2 separate regions of the Homo sapiens genome follow, and region 2 is linked to region 1. The links come from fine-mapping of genetic effects on gene expression. A gene starts in region 1. The other region holds a variant in brackets. All regions are shown on one strand. Distances are from middle to middle.

Region 1 (10,094 bases):
GTCGCCCAGGCTGGAGTGCAGTGGCGCAATTCTCGGCTCACTGCAAGCTCTGCCTCCCGGGTTCACGCCATTCTCCTGCCTCAGCCTCCCGAGTGGCTGGGACTCAGGCGCCCGCCACCACGCCCGGCTAAGTTTTTGTATTTTTAGTAGAGACGGGGTTTCACCACATTAGCCAGGATGGTCTCGATCTCCTGATCCCGTGATCCGCCTGCCTCGGCCTCCCAAAATCCTGGGATTACAGGCGTGAGCCACCGCAGCCAGCCACGATCTCCTCCTTTCTAGTGGACATCTCGAGGTCTGCAAACTAAGGCCATGAGAGCTGCCCGCCTCCCTGCAGAGTCGTGCTATTACAAGGCCCTTCTTCCCTGCTGACCACAAGGCAGCTATCAGAGGCTGTCTTAGGAGGACTTCACGTAAAAAGAAGCCCCTAAGCTTGATAGGCTGAGAAACCTAGGTACGCCATGGCCACCTTACTTATGCGTGGTGGTACTTCTCTGTTTCTTTGAATGCAGGTGTTCAATTAATTACAAAAAAGATGAAACTTAAAATTCTGACTTGGCCGAGTGTGGTGGCTCACGCCTGTAATCCCAGCATTTTGGGAGGCCAAGGCACCCAGATCACGAGGTCAGGAGTTCGAGACCAGCCTGACCAACATGGTGAAACTCCGTTTCTACTAAAAATACAAAAATTAGCCAGGCATGGTGGCACATGCCTGTAATCCCAGCTACTCGGGATGCTGACGCAGGAGTATCGCTTGAACCCAGGAGGCAGAGGTTGCGGTAAGCCGAGATTATGCCACTGCACTCCAGCTTGGGTGACAGAACAAGACTCTGTCTCAAAAACAAAAACAAAACAAAAAACAAAAAAATTGAGCAAATAAGAAAATCCACTGAGGACAAAGGAGCCAGGTTTCTCACTGCTGGAGAAGGTATTCACAATCATGAAAGGTAGAAAGCTAGAAAGAGCCCGGAGGTGTTGGGCTGAAACTGAAGGCATGGTTATGGATTTGGTTTTTGGAAAAACACATGTATGCAACATAGACATAGCTACAGACGTGTGTATATACACAGGCACATACATCTTACATTCCTAGCCTATGTCCACCGAGAGAGCCCAGAAGCAATGAGCGCACTGCTCACCCAAATCCTGCTGTTTTTTAAATTATTATCCTTTTTGAGACGGTGTCTCGCGCTGTCACCCAAGCTGTAGTGCAGTGGTGCAATCTTGGCTCACTGCAACCTCGGCCTCCTGGGTTCAAGAGATTCTGGTGCTTCAGCCTCCTGAGTAACTGGGATTACAGGCACGTGCCAACACACCCAGCTAATTTTTTATTTGTAGTAGAGACGGGGAAGGGTTTCACCATGTTAGCCAGGCTGGTCTCAGACTCTTGGCCTCCAGCGATCCGCCCACTTCGGCCTCCCCAAGTGCTGGGATTACAAGCATGAGCCACAGTGCTCAGCCCAAATCCTGGCTTCTAAATGCCACCTTCCATAAAGGAACCAACGTCCCTAGGGAGATGGCTGACTGCAGGGTTGGAGCAGGGAGAGAACAAATGACCCTGGAATATCTGAGGCCAGGAGGTAAGGAAAAGTGCAGAGAAGGACGGGGACACGTCAGCACTCGGGAGCCAGCGTGAAGGGGCGCTCACTCACCAACTCTGGGATGTGAACATCAAAATAAATCATGACTGCAATAGAATACTTCCCAGTGAATGAGACAGAACTCTGCATCCATATGGTGGTGACTATAAACTAACAAATAAATGAGTAAGAAAATAAAATCTCTCCTTTACAGTAGAATGCCAACTAAAGGTGTAGAAGAAACTATGGAAATTATTTTAAAAAGCACCACTGGGCAACAATCAGAGGGCTTCAGGTAGAAGTCACCGATGGAGGTTAAGGTGGGTCTGCAGAAGTTTCATGAATAAGACAATGGTTGTGATGGTGAACTGAAGGGTGGCTAGATGGCTGGTATTGTTTCTGGTGTGATGGTGCTCCCAGAGAGACTGAAATTTGAGTCAGTGGACTAGGAGAGGAAGATCCACCCTCAGTGGGGGTGGGCACCCTCCAACCGGCTGCCAGCGCGGCTAGAACAAGGCAGGCAGAAGAAAGTAGGTAAGCTAGCTTGCTGAGTCTTCTGGCTTTCGTCTTTACCCCATGCTGGATGCTTCTGTCCATTCCTCCTGCCCTTGGACATCACACTCCAGGTTCTTTGGCCTTCCGGCTCTGGGACTAACACCAGTAGCTTTCCGGGGTCTCTGGGCATTTGGCCACAGACTGAAGCCTGAACTGTTGGATTCCGTTTGAGGCTGTTGGACTCCGGCTGAGCCACTGCTGGCTTCCTCGCTCCTCAGCTTGCAGATGGCCTGTCATGGGACTTTGCCTTGTGATGGTGTGAGCCAGTTCTTCATAAACTTTCTTTCATATGTACATATATCCTATTAGTTCTGTCCTTCTGCAGCACCTTGACTAAGACAATGCTGTAATCTCAGAATGTCTTCCTGGAAAATACGAATCAACTGACAAATGAAAACACGGTGTCTTCATTCTGGCAAAACCCAGCAGACACCAATACCACCAGGGAATTGAGATAAACATAACCCAGGTAGAACTGGCTGGAAGCCTGTGCCCTGACATGAGGACTCAGGACACGGCACCTTCTCTGCAGTCCCGCCAAGAATATAAGATCCATCCTAGGTGTATGAGAAGTCTTTGCCCTTTAATAAGGATGGGCGTCTGCAAAGACACATTCCAGTTTGGGGAAAGCTGAAACTGTGATAGTGGATGAGATCCTGGAGCGGAAAGGAAAAGAGACATTGTTGATACTGTCTGTAAAATCTGCAGGAGGCTGAGGCAGGAGCATCGCTTGAACCCAGGAGGCAGAAGTTGCAGTGAGCCAAGATCGCACCACTGTACTCCAGCCTGGGCGACTGAGCGAGACTCCGTCTCAACAACAAAAAAAAACTGAATGGGGTCTGAGAATCAGAACTTAGTATTGTTTCTTTTCTTTTTTTGAGACAGAGCTTCACTCTGTCAACCAGGCTGGAGTGTAGTGGCACAATCTAGGCTCACTGCAACTTCCACCTCCCAGGTTCAAGCGATTCTTCTGCCTTAACATCCTGAGCAGCTGGAATTACAGGTGCGCCGCGCCCCCCACCACACCTGGCCAATTTTTTTGTTTTGTTTTGTTTTGAGATGGAGTCTCACTGTTGCCCAAGCTGGAGTGCAGTGGGGCGATCTCAGCTCACTGCAACCTCCACCCCCGAGATTCTCCTGCCGCAGCCTCCCGAGTAGCTGGGATTACAGGTGTGCACCACCATGCCCGGCTAATGTCTGTATTTTTACTAGAGAAGGAGTTTCACCATACTGGTCAGGCTGGTCTCAAACTCCTGACCTCAGGTGATCCACCCGCCTTGGCCTCCCCAAGTGCTGGAATTACATGCGTGAGCCACCGTACCTGGCCACACGTAGTTTCTTGATTGCAAGAAGGCTGTCATGTGCCTAAGGGAGAAAAAGACGTGCTGATCAACTTCAGTCAGGCATGAGTGACAGAGGTACTGGCCATGAATTCCATGTTAATGAATCAACTAGACATTATTAAATAAGGAACCTTGAGAGAGAGACATGTACAACAAGGTTAACGATGAACTGCTTAACAAAAATGCTGTGGCCAGCGGCTCGGAGGAACCTGACTCTGTATTTCCCCGGGAGCCAGTGCCTATGGGTGTTACTCACCAACACTCACGATAATTAGATGATTCCAGGTTTCCTGCGACTTTGCAGAACTATCACTGAGCAACGCAAGGTGAAACATAAGCAGGGCCACTCACGTTTGCTTTTTTCACAAGGTCAGACTTTTATTGATACTTAATCAGAAAAGCCGCAACTACACAGGTTTCCCAAGGTGGCAATTCCCCTTAGCACAGCCCGTTCACTCGGTGGCCACAGCCCCGGGCATTCAGGCTCAGACCACTCCACAGGTGAGTCAACACTGCAAACCAAAGATAGTAGTAAACTTAATACATAAATGTTACAGATTATGGATTAAAATGTCCACTTACATCAAGAGAAAAGGGGGGCAGGCCGGGCACAGTGCCTCACGCCTGTAATCCCAGCACTTGGGGAGGCCAAGGCGGATGGATCACCTGACCAGCCTGGCTAACATGATGAAACCCCATCTCTTCCTAAAATACAAAACAATTAGCTGTGCGTGGTGGTGTGTACCTGTAATCCTACTTGGGAGGCTGAGGTGGGAGAATCACTTGAACCTGCAAGGCGGAGGTTGCAATGAGCCGAGACCGAGTCATTGCACTCCAGCCTGGGCAACAAGAATGAAACTCTGTCTCAGAAAAAAAAAAAAAAAGAAAAAGAAAAAAAAAGAAAATGTGGGTAAAACAGGGTTAACGAACCAGTCCAAGGAGAGCGATGTGGCCAAGGAGGAGGTCCTGCACTGATCCAGACATCTTGAAAGGTGGGAGTCCGGGCCTGGGCAGAGCCTTCAAGGGGAGATGTTGTGTGATTGGGAGGGACAGCAAGATGGAGCCAGTCACCACCGCCGTGCAGCTGGTGAGGTCCTGCTCTTTTCACAGCCCTTGAGTTCTCTGGTGAAAACCGAGAGTAAAGACTGTACAATAAGCCGGGCACAGTGGCTCATGTTCTGTAATCCCAGCGCTTTGGGAAGCTGAGGCAGAGGGATCACCTGAGGTCAGGAGTTCAAGACCAGCCTGGGCTACATAGCAAAACCCCGTATCTACAAAAAATACAAAAATTAGCCAGGCATGATGGCGCATGCCTGTAGCTCCCGCTACTCAGGAGCCTGAGGAAGAAGGATGGCTTGAGCCTGGGAGGTGGAGGCTGCAGTGAGCTGTGATCATCCCAGTGCCCTTCAGCCTGAGCCACAGAGGAAGACACTGTCTAAAGAAAAACAACAAGCTGGGCGCAGTGGCTCACGCCTGTAATGCCAGTACTTTGGGAGGCCGAGGCAGGCAGATCACCTGAGGTTGGGAGTTTGAGACCAGCCTGACCAATATGGAGAAACCCCCGTCTCTACTAAAAATACAAAATTAGCCGGGCCTGGTGGTGCATGCCTGTAATCCCAGCTACTTGGGAGACTGAGGCAGGAGAATCGCTTGAACCCAGGAGGTGGTGGTTCCGGTGAGCCGAGATCACACCACTGCACTCCAGCCTGGGCAACAAGAGTGAAACTCCATCTCAAAACAACAAACAAAAAACAAAACAAGAAAAAGCATGCCTGGTTGTGTCTGTCCTTACCTGATTGGGCATGGTCTCTATTGATTAGGCGACCATCTGGTCTGGTTGGCACGACGCTTTTTGGGTTTGAGGAAGGGTCTGCTCTGCTGCCCAGGCTCTAGTGCAGGGCGCATTCACAGCTGACTTATGCCTCCACCTCCCAAGAGGCTGGGACTGCAGGTGCATGCCACCATGCTGCGTTCATTTCTTATTTTTGTAGAGACAGGGTTTCGTCATGTTCACCAGGCTGGTCTTGAACTCCTGTCAGGCCTCTGAGCCCAAGCTAAGCCATCATATCCCCAGTGACCTGCATGTATACATCCAGATGGCCTGAAGCAACTGAAGATCCACAAAAGAAGTGAAAACAGCCTTAACTGATGACATTCCACCCTTGTAATTTGTTTCTGCCCCATCCTAACTGATCAATGTACTTTGTAATCTCCTCTACCCTTAAGAAGGTTCTTTGTAATTCTCCCCACCCTTGAGAATGTACCTTATGAGATCCACCACCTGCCTGCAAAACATTGCTCCTAACTCCACCGTCTATCCCAAAACCTGTAAGAACTAATGATAATCCCATCGCCCTTTGCTGACTCTCTTTTCCGACTCAGCCGGGCTGCACCCGGGTGAAATAAACAGCCTTGTTGCTCACACAAAGCCTGTTTGGTGGTCTCTTCACACAGACATGTGAGACACTAACCTCAGGCCATCCTCCCACCTCGGCCTCCCAAAGTGCCGGGATTACAGGCCTGAGCCACCGTGCACCGTCCGGCTAATATTTTATTTCTGCAGAGATGGGGTCTCGCTATGTTGCCCAGGCTGGTCTCCATGTCCTGGGCCCACGCCCTCCTCCTGCCCAGCTGGGCGGGGTCTTACCCAGGCGGAGCCCCTTACGTGCAGGGCGTTCTGTGCAGTGACCGCGGCCCTGGGCAGAGCCAACCCCACGCGGCCACATAACCGTCCAGGGGGCGGGGGGCAGCGCGGTGAAATGGAAAAGGATTTAACTGGGGGATCTAGGTGCTGGGGACACTGACATTTTCGGTATTATTCTTGAAGCTTTTCCCTAAGTTTGAAATTACCTAAAAACACGTTGTTTTGAGATGGAGGCCTCCTGGGGCCCGCAGGATGCGCGGCCGCGGGCGGGTGCCCGGGGCGGGAGGCGCCGGATGGGTCGCTAGGCCTCCTCCCTCAGGCCGGCCTCGCGCTCCTACCCCGCAGGACCCCGGCCGCAGCCCTGAGTCAGCTTCCCCGCTCCTCGCCCGCCCGGCTGCGCCTGCGCGGAGCCGCCTCACTGTGACCCAGCAAGCGCGCCGCCTGCGAGAAGCGACCGGACACTTCGAGAAGGGAAGTGGAGAAGCGAGGAGTGGGCGGGCCTGCGGGGCGCGGCGGGGCGGGATTGGCCGGATGGCTGGTGTCGTCTTCGGTGTGCGCCGGCGCCACTGGGCCGCGGCCTGGCGGGATTGGCCGGTCTGCGGGTGACGTTGTCGGGGCGCGCCCGGAAACCCCAAGGCCCAGACGGCTCTCAGATCCGGGGGCTGCGGATAAATCCCCGTAGGCCGCGGGCAGCGAGATGTTGCGTTCCGGTGTGGGTGTGGGTGTGCCTCCGACGGCGTCTCGGTGCCAGTGTCGAGGTTCTTTCTGCTTAGCTACCCGGAGCCGACTACGGAGGAGGACACCTGAGTTTACGTCTCTTCCATCTGCTGCTCACCTCAGCTGCCTGGGTCCCCGACGAGAGCCAGGTACGGGGCCGGGATTGCGCAGACAGGGTCTGCCGGGGGTCGGGCCTGCCTTGAGGTCAGGTTGCTCGGGGGTTCGGCCTGTCTGCTAGGAGTGCGGCTGCTGAAAGTCCGGCTGCTTGCTGGAGGTCAGGCTGCTGGGGGTCCGGCCTGTCTGCTGGGGACCGGGCCTGCCGGGGTCTGGCTGCTGGGGGTCCGGCCTGTCTGCTGGGGACCGGGCCTGCCGGGGTCTGGCTGTTGGGGGTCCGGCTGTCTGCTGGGGACCGGGCCTGCCGGGGTCTGGCTGCTGGGGGTCCGGCCTGTCTGCTGGGGACCGGGCCTGCCGGGGTCTGGCTGCTGGGGGTCCGGCCTGTCTGCTGGGGACCGGGCCTGCCGGGGTCTGGCTGTTGGGGGTCCGGCCTGTCTGCTGGGGACCGGGCCTGCCGGGGTCTGGCTGTTGGGGGTCCGGCTGTCTGCTGGGGACCGGGCCTGCCGGGGTCTGGCTGCTGGGGGTCCGGCCTGTCTGCTGGGAGTCCGGCTGTCTGCTGGGGGCCGGGCCTGCCATCGGGGCCGTAGTACCGGGTCGCACGGGGTCGTTAACCCGCCAGCCGAGTGACAGCCACGTAGATGTGTGTTTTCTTGCTGCGGGCCCGGCCCGCCAGGGTAGGGTGTTGGTTTCCTAGGACGGGTGCTGTGCGTCCAGAACAAAATCATTTGGGGATTCACATCAAACTCTTGTGAATTCCTTGAACAAAACAATTTCGGAACGCCTGCTGTGTGTCGGGCACCGGGAGCTAATAGTAAAGCAGCGGATCTGTAGTTGGAAGCTGTGGGCGAAGGAGGGCTGGGAAAGGACTAATGGGCACCTTAAGTAGCGGGCGTGTAACATAGAGGGAACTGGGGAGGGTGGGAATGGCTTTAAACTGAGGCGGGAGGGGATAACTAGACGTTTGCCATGGGCGAGAGTGTTCCAGTCTTAGGCGACAGTCTAGGAGGCCTCCAGGAGTGGGGAGAGAGCTGATGGGAAGGTCAGGAAAAGGCCCCGGGAGGGGCTGGTGAGTACTAGATGACGGGACCTCGTGAGCCCCAGGAAAAGGCCCCGGGAGGGCTGGTGGGTACTAGATCATGGAGGGGACCTCGTGAGCCCCTTGATTCTCTCTCGAGTGCGGTAGTTTCACCAGCTGTCTGCCTGTTTTCCATAGTGACTTAACAGCTTGCGCTTCTCCCTGATCAACTCCAGGTTGATGTCATCGAGGAATAAGTTCACAGTAAGATTCAATGCCTAAGGGAGTTGAAGAGAGAGGCGAGGGACAGAGTTAAATCTTCTCTGGATAATGGAGTCAACTGATGTGATTTAGCACCTAGTAACAGAGTTTTGTTTATGTGAACAAGTATATTCCATGGATAAAATTGTGACTTAAAATTCACCAAAGTCGTAATCATCACTGGCAGCTGTGTGAATTAGCTCTCGCCCCCTCAGTGTGAGTTTAAATAGAAACCCGAGTTCAAGGAGTGCTTCATAGACTAGGAATTAAAAGGCCTGTGAAGGAGTCCGTGTCTCTTAATGGGGTTGACTACGAATGGCGGACACCTGGTATTTGTACTAAAACTCCATGGAATGCTCCCCACACAGTGCGTTTGTTGACTTTCATTAGCTGTAATTACATTGTAAATCCTGGTGACTGAAGGGCAGTCCAGCTTTCCTCCTAACTATTCTGATTCTCTTGTAGGTGACACTTAACTCCGCCATCTGCGTTTTGAGCACTGTTCTCATAATGGAGTTTCCTGATTTGGGGAAGCATTGTTCAGAAAAGACTTGCAAGCAGCTAGGTGAGTACTTTTAAGAGACTTAATAGAAAATGGTATTTTGTTGGGGGAAAGCTGGCTGTTCTGTTAATTAGCTGATAATTGTGTCTTGGCCTTCCTGGCTCCTCAGTATTGGGAACTGTGCTGGTGCAGGTTCTGTTTGACACTTAGCATCCACCAGAGGCTGGGTGCAGGAGTGCAGGCTGGCTAGCAGGGCCAGGTGGATCCAGGGGGCTGCTGGAATACTTGCGATGCCATAGGGGGTCTCTAGAAGACAGCCTGACCCTGGGATTGTTTTCACATGTGTGGCCCTCGAGGACCTGTCCATCTCATAGGCCTAAAACACTTAGTGTAGGTAAACACTTTGATAGTACTATCTGGAAGTATTTTGTTCCAGTCGTTAAAACACTTCCCTGTTTTTTGTTTTTTAGATTTTCTTCCAGTAAAATGTGATGCATGTAAACAAGATTTCTGTAAAGATCATTTTCCATACGCTGCACATAAGTGTCCGTTTGCATTCCAGAAGGTAATTGATCCTTTGTTCAAAAGATTCTCATCTTCACCGTCTGAAGCTGCACTGTCTTGCTGGTATGGTAGGGACTAGCGACGTATGGCTAACTCATTGAAAATTAAATTTTAAAATCCAGTTTTTCAGTCCCACTAGCCTCGTTTCAGGTGCCTGCTGTTAGGCAGTACAGAGGAGCGTGTCTGCCCTCACAGGACATTCTGTTGGATGACTCTCAGACAACTGAGATCTTATTTTCAGGGACTCATGGAGTCACTTAGTTGTAACCTTATGTTCCAAGCTTACTTTAGATGTTCAAATACTTGGTTCCTTTGATCTGTTACACCATAGCTGTTACACCATAGCTGTGTCTTCACCAGATGCAAGAAAGATTTTAATATTTGACTTGGAAGCCAATCAGGAAGGCAGTAAATACGCTTATTGATTTGAATAACTGCAGCCTTGACATAGTATTTAGGTGACTCCCAGAGTACACAGCAGAAACTGAAAGAGGACCTAAGGAAATGAGCTTGCCCCGAGTCCAGAGGTTTGAGACTTGTTGTTGACTTTTCAGATGGTTCCCAGCCCGTGTTTACTTTGTCTCTGGATGGGTCACAGGTCATTTTAGTGAACTCTGCCACTTGACCGTGGTGGCAGTGGTAATGTGGGTGGCCCAGCATTCTGTGCTTTGACCAGTGTTGGCCAGGGTCTGACCCTCCAGCCATTTTTAGGCCATCACGGTGGGTGGGGAGGGTGACTCACATTCCCTGCGTTTACTAGGCACGGATGACTAAGCCAGACTGCCCAGCTTGTCTTCCC
Region 2 (12,768 bases), 150 kb after region 1:
TGCAGGTCCTGCGTAAAGCTTTTCATGCACATTGAATTGTTTTATGCATTTTCAAATGTAATCCTCAAGACATCTAACCGCAGGAGACAGAATGTGTGGCTGGAATTTTTATTTTTCTGTACTTCATATGAGTGTCTGTATTTCATCAAGTCTGAAATGCTGAAGACTGTCCTAGCATTGAGATAGGGTGACTGTACTTTTGTACGACTTTCTGCTTGCCCTGGGATGGTCCAGAGACGCCGGCTTTAGACATCACACGTCTGTGACAGGCCGGTGCTTCCTTCCATGAGGCCCGTCCCATCTGTGTTGGAAAGCCTTCATGTTAGGAGAGAGACTCTTGCCCTGACAGCGTCGGCTCAAAGCCGCCCACAACACCTCTCCCAGAAGAGTGGCCCCAGACTGCAGGGTCTGTGGGGTGGACACTGGGCCTAGAGGGGCTCCAGGGGGCCCAAAGTCTGCCCCTTCCCAGAATCCTGGAGCCGGCAGGAGCCTGGAGTCACCCCTGGCTGCTGCGCCAGGCTTTGCATCCTAGGCCTGAAACTCAAGTCCCTAGAAGGGGCCCTCACAGGCTTTTATTTGACACTGGGATTCTTTTAAAAATTTTTTGGTGTGTACTTAGGTAATTTACAAGCCCTTGGGGCAACTTTGGGAGCTCTATGTGATAGTGTCAAGTTTGTTAAAAGTATTTGCTAATTAAACCCACGTTCTTATTTGCTAGTGAAACCCGCGTTCTTTGGAGGGTCGGCACGTGGGTGGCAGTTAGAGAAAGTTCTCCGCTGCTCGTCTGTGGGTGACAGCCGTCCTACCTTGCTCACCTGTGCTCTCCGGGCCAGACACTGTGCAGGCCAAGCAGAGCAAGCAGCAGGTCCCGGCATTACCACGCCCGATCCTGGCGGCCCCACCACCCTCCCGCGCTGCTCCCATTCCCCACGACCTGCCGCGGCCTGTGCCCTCCAGCCTGCCTGGACCTGCTGCCTCCCGCCCCCTCCAGCTGCACACCCTCCCGGGGCCCGCCTGTGTCATCCCAAGATAGCTGAGGTCGCTCACGTCGTGGTCACAGCCTTGGGGAATTGCCTGGTCCAGGACAGTGAGCGCGAGCATAGGGCGGCCGATGGCACGGAGTGGAGCCGGCACCCCCAAGGCAGCGAGCGCGAGCACGGGGCAGCCGATGGCGCAGAGTGGAGCCGGGCACCCCCAAGGCCCCTGGCTCTCCGGGCGCAGCACCCTCACTCCAGCTGCCCCTGCGTCTTCTGTTGAGGCCCAGCACAGAAAGCAGGAGTTTGGAAAAGTTAAAGGTGCACCGGCCAGTGTCAGGCACAGCCCAGGGCAGTGGGTGGCACTCCTGAGCTTCCCACCTCGTGGCCACAGTGGCTCCCTCGGGGACACGGGAATTGGGCTGTGACTCCTGCCAGGTCGGGAGCGCTGGTGGCCAGAAGCAAGAGTGGGTGTGAAGGAAGCTGTTTCCGCAGCATCCAGGCTGGTGCCTGACACAAGAAGCAGCCCTGCACCGGGCGCTCAGGAAGCCTGCGGGAAACAGCTGGGCCTGCGGGTCCCCGGCTTGGCCCCGATATGGGACGGCCTGGGTTCCCCTCGCCATCCACCCCAGGCCAGCGCCCACGTTGCTGTTGCCCACAGCCTTGGCCCCGTCCTCACCACTCTGGCCACCAACCTGGGACCCTACCACAGGGCCCTGCCCACCTGCTCAGGGCCTGTCCGGGTGCCCCACGCATGTGGGCTGACAGACCCTCGGCCACCGCGGCGGCCCCTGTGCAGCCCTAACAGTGTTATGGACTTTGGCCCGTGTGATCAGCCGTGGACTGCGTGGCCCATGGAGTGGGGGCCGAGGCTGGGCCTGTGCCAGGAGGGTTTTTACCTTTCAGGGCCAGTTGTTGTGCCTGCCCCGTTGGCGGCTGTGGGCGGCTGTGGGCCTAGGAGGTGAGCATGGAGCTGGTTGGAGCCGGTCAGTCACCAGGCTCCCCTGGGGGTGTCCACATCCCCACCATGAAAATCTTGCTCCCCAGAGCCCTGCGTGCCTGGCCTGGTGGGTCTCAGAGCTTCCTGCCTGTGTGTGTGGGCGGCCCAGGCCTTCCCACCGGGACTCTTCAGCCTCTCTGTGCCAGGCATCTGCCAGGGACGGTGCTCCTCGTCCCCCAGGCCCTGTCTCTTGCTGCGGACCCCTGGCAGGCTCTAGGGGTGTGGCTGTGGGTGTGTTGGCGTGTGTGTATGGTGTTTGTGGGTGTCTGTGGGCGTGTGTGGGTATCTGTGGGTGTCTGGGTGTGTGGGCATCTGTGGGTGTCTCTGGGTGTGTTTGGGTATCTGGGTGTTTGTGGGTGTCTGGGTGTGTATCTGGGTGTGGGCGTGTGTGGCTGTGGGTATGTTGGGATGGTGTGTGGATGTGTTTGGGTGTGTTTGGGTATCTGGGTGTTTGTGGGTGTCTGCAGGTGTCTGGGTGTGGGTGTGTCAGGGTGTCTGGGCGTGTGAAGGTGTGTCTGGGTGTGGGTGTGTCTGGGTGTCTGTGGGCGTGTTTGGGTGTGTGGGTGTTTCTGGGTGTCTGTGGGTGTTTGGGTATCTGTGGGTGTCTGGGTGTCTGTGGATTTGTTGGATGTGTGTGGGTGTCGGTGTGTGTGGTTGTATGTGGGTGTGTGGCATGTGGGGGTGTCTGGGCGTGTGGGTGTTGGTCTATGTGTGGGTATCTGGGTGTGGGTGTGTTGGGTATGGGTGGGTGGGTATGTGGGTGTCTGTGGGTGTGGGTATGTGTCCGTGTCTGTGGGTGTGGGTGGGTGAGTGTGGGTGTATGGTGGGTGTGGGTGGGTGTGGGTCGGTGTGGGTACATGGGTGAGGGTTGGGGGCTGTGTTTGGCTGTAGGGGTGAAGTCTGTGAATGTGTGTGTCTGTGTCGGGGGGGTGGGTTGCATATATATCTGTATGTAGGGGGGCTTGCCTCACTCTTCTTTGCTCTCCCTGGGGTGGGATGCGTAGGCGTGGGCTGTGCCCGGCCTCCCTTCCTGGAAGCTCCCGGTGGGCGCTGCCTGGTTGATTCCCACGCCCCTAGCTGTTTCCCTGGGCTCCTGGCCTTGCTCGGAGTCTACACTGATGTTCTGACTTTTCCAAAAAAGACGAAGCATGTGGACAGCGGCTGGGGTCACCTCATGGTCACCCCGTGGCCCGGCTGCCCCGGCTTTGACGCTTTGCACCGTCCTCTTCTTTTGTTAATGAGGGGAGGGTGGGCAAGACGGAGGGCCTGTGCTTTCCTGGCAAGATGTGGCTGGGGACACATTGTCACAGCGGGCCCTCTCCCTCCCTTGGGGGTCTTGGCCCCCTCCCTGTCCCCAGCCTGCAGCCCAGGGGGAGCCAGGCAGCCAGTGACCTGCCAGAAAGCAGCAGGCCCCAGGCACCGTCCTCGGGATTTGGGTCGGGTCTGGGGCCAGCACCTGGCCTGTGTGATAACAGACACCAGCACACCTTCAGCCCTCCCTGGGGGCCGGCCCGGATCTTCCCACACTGTGTGGGGTGGGGCAGGACCTCACAGAGCCTCGGGAGCCGGGAGTCTGTGGGAGGTGGACCACGGGGGTGGGGAAGGGGCCTCTGGGCAGTTAATCCTGGCACCTGGCGCCTGCCCGCAGGACTGGCCATCCTCATGTGACCTGTCTGTCTCTTCGTCGTAGCACAGGCTTAGCAGGATGGTGTCGGCTGGGGCCAGACCCAGTGCTTGGGGACAGAGCTTTTGGCCACTACTGAGGTGAGGGTGGGCTCGGGAAGCCCCAGGCAGCGCACCCGTCTCTGGATACCCTCCATCCCCGAAGCCTAATGTGTTCCTTGACTTTCAGGGCGAAGCTGTGCTCAGGCCCGGGCTGGACGCAGAGCCAGAGCTGTCCCCAGAGGAGCAGAGGGTCCTGGAAAGGAAGCTGAAAAAGGAACGGAAGAAAGAGGAGAGGCAGCGTCTGCGGGAGGCAGGCCTTGTGGCCCAGCACCCGCCTGCCAGGCGCTCGGGGGCCGAACTGGCCCTGGACTACCTCTGCAGGTGAGCGGCCCTGCCCCACGCGGTTCTGTCCCGGACGTGCGTCTCAACCCCTGCCTGAGGGGGTCGAAGCCTTCACTCGCACACACTGTGTGGAAGGTTCTAGAGCAGTGAGGTATGAGCGTTCATGCCAGGCCTGTGCTGCCGCCGCTGCCCTTTCTGTCTGAATGGCCCAGAGCCTTCAGGAACTTTCAGGGGCGGCAGCAGAGCCGCTGCCCGTGCAGGGGTTGCCTGGAACTGTGCTTTTAGAAATGGGTCTGATGGTGAACCTTGCCCCAGGTGTACGTCACCACAGGAAGAATCCACGGGCCTGGGTGCTGCTTGGACGTGGGGGTGAGGAGGAGGGAACTCGTGGTGGCCTTCAGCCCTCACTCACAGTGACAGGAGGCGCCACTGCCACCCAAGAGCGGGAAGACGGGGATTGTGGGGTGCTGGGCACAGGGTGCCATCTCCCTGGCTGCCTGCGGCGTGGCTGGGTGGATGGTGCCTGCGGCGTGGCTGGGTGGACGGTGCAGGATTGCAGGGGTCAGAGGCTTTGGCGTGGGCTCCACAGCCTTGCGGGCTGTGGCCACCTCCCCGGCGCTTACCAGCACAGGCTGCTGCCCGTTCCTGTCCGTCTCCCTGAGTGCTGACTGCACCTAGAATAAGGGGTGTCACGGCGTCCACGTGGCTGGCTTCCTCAGAGACAAGAACTGGGTCCCTGTGATGAAGTCACCCTGAGGGGCAGGGTGTCCTGTGGGGGCACTGGCCCTGCCTGGGAGGACAGGCTCCAGCCGCACCTCTGTGGGAGGCCCTCGGAGAGATGACCTCCTCGGAGAGATGACCCCCAGTGTGGCTGTGCAGCTAGCGGAATGAGCAGCGGGGCCTGCGTGGATGTGCACGCTGCGTGCACGTGCACGTGTACGTGTGTGCATGTGTGTACGTGTGTGCATGTGTATGTGTGTGTGTGTGCGTGTATGTGTGTTCGCATGGGTGTGTGTGCACGCATGTGTGTTCGCATGAGGGGGTGTGCGTGTGCATGTATGCGCATGTGTATACGTGTGTTGTGTACGTGTGTGCATGTGTATACGAGTGTTGCGTACACGTGTGTGCGTGTGTTTACGTGTGTGCGTGTGTATACACGTTGTGTATATGTGCGTGTGTACATGTATACACGTGTGTACATGTGCGTGTGTGCGTGTGTGTTTATGCACGTGTGTGTTTATGTGTGGACATGTGTGTTGTGTGTGCATCCCCAGGACGGTCCTCCACCTACAGGAGAGGGGCTCTTGGCTGCCCTGCACCAGGCTCAGCGCCGGGCTCAGGAAATGGGGATGGGGGCAAGCCTCCTGTTTCTCGGAGCTGAGGCTGCCTTGGGGGTCATAGAATGAGCTCAGCCATAGCGTTGGGTGGATCCGGCTGGAACCAGTTGAGTCATCATGGGTCTCTGCACTGGTCAGTTCTCTGGGAGGCTTAGCTTCCCTCTCCCTGAGGAACGTGGGGCTGAGGCCAGGTGCCCAGGGCTACCCCAAGAGCTCTTTCTTGCTCCAAGAACGCGCTTGGCCCAGGGGACCCAAGGTGCTGGCTGTGGTGTGAGGCTGCTGCCTCCTGCGCTTGCTCCTGCTTCTCTGCAGGCAGGGCCACAAGCCACCGCAGGGTCAGTCGCTGTAGACAGAGAGGGCTTCAGAGGCCGTTAGTGCAGCGTCTCGAGCCCAGGTGTGGGCAAGGTGTGGGCTGGGCAGAGCAGGTGGACACAGGCCTGGAAGGTGCCAGCCGCAGGAATGGACTGTAGGCTCCCTGTGGGAGGCAGAGGGCGACTGGGGCCTGCAGCTGTGCCACCTGCACCTTGCCTGTCTCCACTGGCAGGTGCCTCGGGGCGTGGCTGTTCTGGACCTGCCCTGATGCCTGGGGTGGGCGGGGTTTGTCCGCCTTCCTCCCCAGGCCTGCCAGCACCTTCCGCTGCTCTCAGTGTGGACTGTTAGACAAGGGGGACGTTGGGGACGTGGGCAGGAGAGGGGGGACCATCCGCTCCACCACGTGGCTGCCACTCCCTGGTCTTCACCCTGGAGGCGCCCTGACTCCCCTCCCATGATCACACACCCTCCGAGCACCCCACGGGAAGGTCCTGAGTGCCTGGGAGCATGCCCTGCTCCTGTCCTCAGCCTCACCCTCCTCTCCCCCTCTGGGACCTTCCCGTGGCCCCCTCATGCTACTCGCAACCCCCCAGCGGCAAGTCCTGTGCGGAGGCACTGTGTCCTGCGTGTGGGAGGAGGGGGGACTCTTACTTCTCAGAAACAAAGCAGCCCCTTCCCACAGGAGCTTCTTCCAAGGCCTGGGATCCACACACCAGGAGGCCAGCCACAGACACGGGCACCCCGGCAGGAGCTTCTCCTCTTTCCTGGGGGTCTCCAAGGGTGCCCGCAAGCCCAGCCGCATCTGGCTGCCAGATCAGAGCCCACGTGGATGTGTGGAGCCCACGGTATCCCTGGCAACTCAGGGTTTTCCAAAGAGAGGGAGCCCGGGGATTCCCACAGGGGAGTGTCCTCAGCCTGGGGGCTGCTGGGGACCACTGGCCACGCCACGGCTGGCCCACCACAGAGCCCCCAGCCCAGGGGCAGCGGTGAAGGTAGGTGCCCGAGTTGTCCTCCCCCTGCAGAGGCCCTGGACTGGGACTCAGGAAGGACATGCTGGCCGCCGTGGCCCATGGCCATCTTATGGGCTTTCCACGAGGGGTTCCTCCTGGAGGCAAAGCCATCTGCAGCCAGGTGGGCTGTGTGTGGAGGAGACCCCGGATTGTTCTGGTGAGCCCTCATGGTGGAGAGTTTCCTCTCATCTCTCTGGGAGGCACCCCACCCATTCCAGGATGCCCTGGGGGTCTCCCCTCCAGATCCCCCGAAGGCTCTGCCCCCAAGACACGTCGACCCAGCGCCCGTGGGGTCTTCATGCCCCGTCCCTAGAACCCGGGTCGCAGGCTGGGCAGCATCCCCACACGGTGACCTTGGCCTGTGACCTGTGACCATACCCTGGGCTGTTCTTGCATCTCAAGGGTTCATCTTCTCTGCAGCCTTCCTGGGGTGCTCCTGGCTTTGTGTGAAGCTGGGGCTGGTGGGAGCTGTGCAGCAGGGCTGGGGAGAGGAGGGTCCAGAGGGTGGGATGGGGGATTGTGGCCGTCATGCGCTCTTTCCCTGCGCTGTGGCCGTCGTGTGCTCTTTCCCTGCAATGTGGCCATCGTGCGCTCTTTGTCTGCGCTGTGACCGTCATGCGCTCTTTCCCTGCAGTATGACCGTCGTGCGCTCTTTCCCCGCGCTGTGGCCGTCGTGCGCTCTTTCCCCGCGCTGTGGCCGTCGTGCGCTCTTTCCCCGCGCTGTGGCCGTCGTGCGCTCTTTCCCTGCGCTGTGGCCGTCGTGCGCTCTTTCCCTGCGCTGTGGCCGTCGTGTGCTCTTTCCCTGCAGTATGGCCGTCGTGCGCTCTTTCCCTGCGCTGTGGCCGTCGTGTGCTCTTTCCCTGCGCTGTGGCCGTCGTGTGCTCTTTCCCTGCGCTGTGGCCGTCGTGCGCTCTTTCCCTGCAGTATGGCCGTCGTGCGCTCTTTCCCTGCGCTGTGGCTGTCGTGCGCTCTTTCCCTGTGCTGTGACCGTCGTGTGCTCTTTCCCTGCACTGTGGCCGTCGTGTGCTCTTTCCCTGTGCTGTGACTGTCCCCTCGTTTTCCCAGCAGGGGCCCCAGGCTTGGTCACCCAGCTCTGTTTTTCCAGCTCAGAGCCGTGTTGCTCTGGCCTTGCATAGGCGGAAGTTTGGGAGTGCTGGAAGCAGTCCCTCCACTTTCTGTGGGTCTCTGGGTTGCTGGGTCCACTGTGGTAGTTACA[C/T]GAGCGAGGCACACGGCTGTCAGCGGGCAAGCCTGTTCCTCATTAAAGAGAAAAAAGAGTTTATTTATATGCTTAACGCAGGAAATTGAAGATTTACTTTCCATATAACTGAAAAAAGAAAAGAACACGCCTGCTGGGTGTTCACGTTGGGGGCAGGTGGCGAGGTGACCGCTGCCTCCCTGGTCCCTGCAGGCTTTAGCTCACCATTTTCGGGGGCCGGCCCCCTGCCTGGGTCTGCTCGAGGCGGGAGGTGGTGCCCCCACAGGAGAGAGAGGAACTGGGACCCGGGCCACACGGATCCAGCCGGGACGGGGTCCCCCACTCACCTGCGGGAGGACGAGAGCAAGTCACTCCTGCCGTGGGGCAGCCCAAGCCCACCCTCCTCAGGTCCCCATGTTGCCCAGCACAGCATGGTGTCTTAGCTTCCTTGCACCCCGTGGCCTCCGGGCCTGGAACCCTGGAATGACAGGCCAGAGCAGAGGCCAAACTGTCCCATCAGCGGAGCTTAGGGGACACTTCTTGGGTGTCCTTCCCTACCCAGGCCCACTGCCCCGCTGCCGAGGGACAGCCCAGCTCCAAGTATGGGAGGAGCGGCCAACCCATGAGACCCGGCCCCTGTCCGCGCCAGCCCCGCTCGGGCCTTCATGGGCATTGGGTCGTCAGCTCACCGCGGCTGGCAGTTCCTGGTGCAGTTACGAGCACGTGGACGCTGTGGCTGCGGGCCGGCTTCAGATGCTGTCTCAATAGAGACCCTCGCTCAGTTTTCTTTTGGAAGGGGGTTCAGCAAGAAGTCCCCGCTTTTTGTGGGTTGATTTGTTTGTTTTGAGATGGAGTCTCACTCTGTCGCCAGGCTGGAGTGCAGTGGTGCAATCTCGGCTCACTGCAACCTCTGCTTCCCAGGTTCAAGCGATTCTCCTGCCTCAGCCTCCTGAGTAGCTGAGATTACAGGCATCCGACACCACGCCCGGCTAATTTTTTGTATTTTTAGTAGAGACAGGGTTTCACCGTATTAACCAAGATGGTCTTAGTCTCCTGACCTTGTGATCCGCCCTCGGCCTCCCAAAGTGCTCAGCTTACAGGCATGAGCCACTGTTCCCAGCCGCCCCTGCTTTTTTTTAAAGCCCAGTAGGCTAGCAGGGACTCTGGTTCTCCACCCAGCTGGTGAGTACCACAGGGGAGGAGGTTCTTCTCTCTGGGACGCTCTAGGCAGCTCTGGACAGATGACCCTGCAGTGGCCGTGGCCCCCGCTATGCTGGGGACAAGGGACTTCCCTCTGACTGCTCTCTTTCCTTTTCCAAGATGGGATCTCCTGTCTGCTGCCCCACCTAGGCAGAGAGAAAGAGGATTGTGTCAGGCATCCTGTGAACTGTCTGCAGTTGCGCAGGGACCAGTCCCCAGGGTGGGTGGCAGAGGCGGCCATCACTCAGGAGGCCTCGCCCAGTGCCGTGGGAGCCACAGGCGACACTGAGCACCCCACCCGCCCCTCGCTGTGTCTGCTCCCCCAGTGACGAGGCCAAGAGCGGGACGGCTCATCTTCGGTGGTGAGGGAGATGGGCTTGGCTTGAAGTCTGCCTGGTGGGGGCTCGGTGAGAGAGAGGCGCCCTTGGTTCAGGGCCGTAGGCAGCAGTGCCGTGGGCCAGCAGTGCTGTGGCCTCGGGCCCCATGGGAGGGCAGTGTGCAGAGCAGCTGTGACTGACTCACCGTGCGTGGGCTCTGGGAACACCCGTGAAGTGGGGTCACCACTCCACGTTCCCAAGGAGGAAACAGGCTGGTGGAAAGCAGCAGCTCAAGGTGGGAGAGTTAGAAAGTGGCAGAGCTGAGATGCCAACTTCTGCCCTGCAGCAGTAAAACAGCCCCCAGCAGGCAGATGCCATGGCCTGGCTGGCCCGGGTGCACCTCACAGGGGCCCACGCTGGCCGGGTCGGCCATCCGGGGAGCAGACGACGAGGGGCTGTCTAAAAAGAAAGGAACTAAAATTAAACCTCCCTGGAGGCCCCTCTCATCACGCAGGAGCCCTGCGTCACTGCACATGGGGCTGGCGTGTCACCTAGCAGCTGCACAGCTGGGCTCCACACCCGCAGGACTCCCCACCCGCAGGACTCCACTCACCCACAGGACTCCCCACCCACAGGACTCCACTCACCCACAGGACTCCACTCACCCACAGGACTCCCCACCCACAGGACTCCACTCACCCACAGGACTCCACTCACCCACAGGACTCCCCACCCACAGGACTCCAAACCCACAGGACTCCACTCACCCACAGGACTCCACTCACCCACAGGACTCCCCACCCACAGGACTCCAAACCCACAGGACTCCACTCACCCAAGGACTCCCCACCCACAGGACTCCACTCACCCACAGGACTCCACTCACCCACAGGACTCCCCACCCGCAGGACTCCACTCACCCACAGGACTCCCCACCCACAGGACTCTACTCACCCACAGGACTCCCCACCCGCAGGACTCCACTCACCCACAGGACTCCCCACCCGCAGGACTCCACTCACCCACAGGACTCCCCACCCACAGGACTCCCCACCCACAGGACTCCACTCACCCACAGGACTCCACTCACCCAAGGACTCCCCACCCACAGGACTCCCCACCCACAGGACTCCACTCACCCACAGGACTCCACTCACCCGCAGGACTCCCCACCCGCAGGACTCCACTCACCCACAGGACTCCCCACCCACAGGACTCCACTCACCCACAGGACTCCACTCACCCACAGGACTCCCCACCCACAGGACTCCCCACCCACAGGACTCCACTCACCCACAGGACTCCACTCACCCACAGGACTCCACTCACCCGCAGGACTCCACTCACCCGCAGGACTCCACTCACCCACAGGACTCCCCACCCACAGGACTCCACTCACCCACAGGACTCCACTCACCCACAGGACTCCCCACCCGCAGGACTCCACTCACCCACAGGACTCCCCACCCACAGGACTCCACTCACCCACAGGACTCCCCACCCACAGGACTCCACTCACCCACAGGACTCCACTCACCCACAGGACTCCCCACCCGCAGGACTCCACTCACCCACAGGACTCCCCACCCGCAGGACTCCACTCACCCACAGGACTCCCCACCCACAGGACTCCACTCACCCACAGGACTCCACTCACCCACAGGACTCCACTCACCCACAGGACTCCCTACCCACAGGACTCCAAACCCACAGGACTCCACTCACCCAAGGACTCCCCACCCACAGGACTCCACTCACCCACAGGACTCCCCACCCGCAGGACTCCACTCACCCACAGGACTCCCCACCCACAGGACTCCACTCACCCACAGGACTCCACTCACCCAAGGACTCCCCACCCACAGGACTCCCCACCCACAGGATTCCACTCACCCACAGGGCTCCACTCACCCACAGGGCTCCACTCACCCGCAGGACTCCACTCACCCGCAGGACTCCACTCACCCGCAGGACTCCCCACCCACAGGACTCCCCACCCGCAGGACTCCACTCACCCACAGGGCTCCACTCACCCGCAGGGCTCCACTCACCCGCAGGACTCCACTCACCCACAGGGCTCCACTCACCCACAGGACTCCCCACCCACAGGACTCCACTCACCCACAGGACTCCCCACCCACAGGACTCCACTCACCCACAGGACTCCACTCACCCACAGGACTCCCCACCCACAGGACTCCCCACCGGCAGGACTCCACTCACCCACAGGACTCCCCACCCACAGGACTCCATTCACCCACAGGACTCCCCACCCACAGGGCTCCACACCCACAGGATTCCCTACCCACAGGACTCCCCACCCACAGGATTCCACTCACCCACAGGGCTCCACTCACCCACAGGACTCCACTCACCCGCAGGACTCCACTCACCCGCAGGACTCCACTCACCCACAGGACTCCCCACCCACAGGACTCCCCACCTGCAGGACTCCACTCACCCACAGGACTCCACTCACCCACAGGGCTCCACTCACCCACAGGACTTCCCACCCACAGGACTCCACTCACCCAGAGGACTCCCCACCCACAGGACTCCCCACCCGCAGGACTCCACTAACCCACAGGACTCCCCACCCACAGGACTCCACTCACCCACAGGACTCCCCACCCACAGGACTCCACTCACCCACAGGACTCCACTCACCCACAGGACTCCCCACCCGCAGGACTCCCCACCCGCAGGACTCCCCACCCACAGGACTCCACTCACCCACAGGACTCCCCACCCACAGGACTCCACTCACCCACAGGACTCCCCACCCACAGGGCTCCACACCCACAGGACTCCCTACCCACAGGACTCCCCACCCACAGGACTCCACTCACCCGCAGGACTCCACTCACCCACAGGACTCCCCACCCACAGGACTCCACTAACCCACAGGACTCCCCACCCGCAGGACTCCCCACCCGCAGGACTCCACTCACCCACAGGACTCCACTCACCCACAGGACTCCCCACCCGCAGGACTCCCCACCGGCAGGACCCCCCACCCGCAGGACTCCACTCACCCACAGGACTCCCCACCCACAGGGCTCCACTCACCCACAGGACTCCCCACCCACAGGATTCCACTCACCCACAGGACTCCACTCACCCGCAGGACTCCACTCACCCACAGGACTCCCCACCCACAGGACTCCACTCACCCACAGGAATCCCCACCCACAGGACTCCACTCACCCACAGGACTCCCCACCCACAGGACTCCACTCACCCACAGGACTCCCCACCCACAGGGCTCCACACCCACAGGACTCCACTCACCCACATGGCAGTGGGGTCAGGCAAGCTGGGCAGCGCTCACAACAGGCACAGGGCCCTCCCCCGTGCTGAGCCTACAGTCTTCAGACCTGGGCTTGCACACTGATGGAGGCTTCTGGGCTCGGCTG

The links.
Region 2: its variant is fine-mapped to the expression of ZFAND2A-DT in thyroid (GTEx, PIP 0.98).

Annotation. Positions count from the first base shown.
Region 1 is chr7:1,156,858-1,166,951 of GRCh38, reverse strand. ZFAND2A-DT (ZFAND2A divergent transcript) reads right to left here and starts at 6,578. Exons shown (of 3, transcript NR_110069.1): 1 at 6,329-6,578; 2 at 4,409-4,600; 3 at 994-2,791. It overlaps ZFAND2A (zinc finger AN1-type containing 2A), which reads left to right and starts at 6,756. Exons shown (of 5, transcript NM_182491.4): 1 at 6,756-6,988; 2 at 8,695-8,794; 3 at 9,202-9,296. The coding sequence starts at 8,740. RefSeq lists enhancers at 5,600-6,112, 6,113-6,626, 6,627-7,139, 7,140-7,654 and silencers at 6,218-6,267, 6,278-6,817.
Region 2 is chr7:1,001,202-1,013,969 of GRCh38, reverse strand. It overlaps CHLSN (cholesin), which reads left to right. Exons shown (of 5, transcript NM_001318252.2): 3 at 3,827-4,020. LOC124901570 (a long non-coding RNA gene) reads right to left here and starts at 9,811. Exons shown (of 3, transcript XR_007060184.1): 1 at 9,558-9,811; 2 at 8,525-9,181; 3 at 7,899-8,182. The variant C/T (reference allele first, on the strand shown) is at 7,857.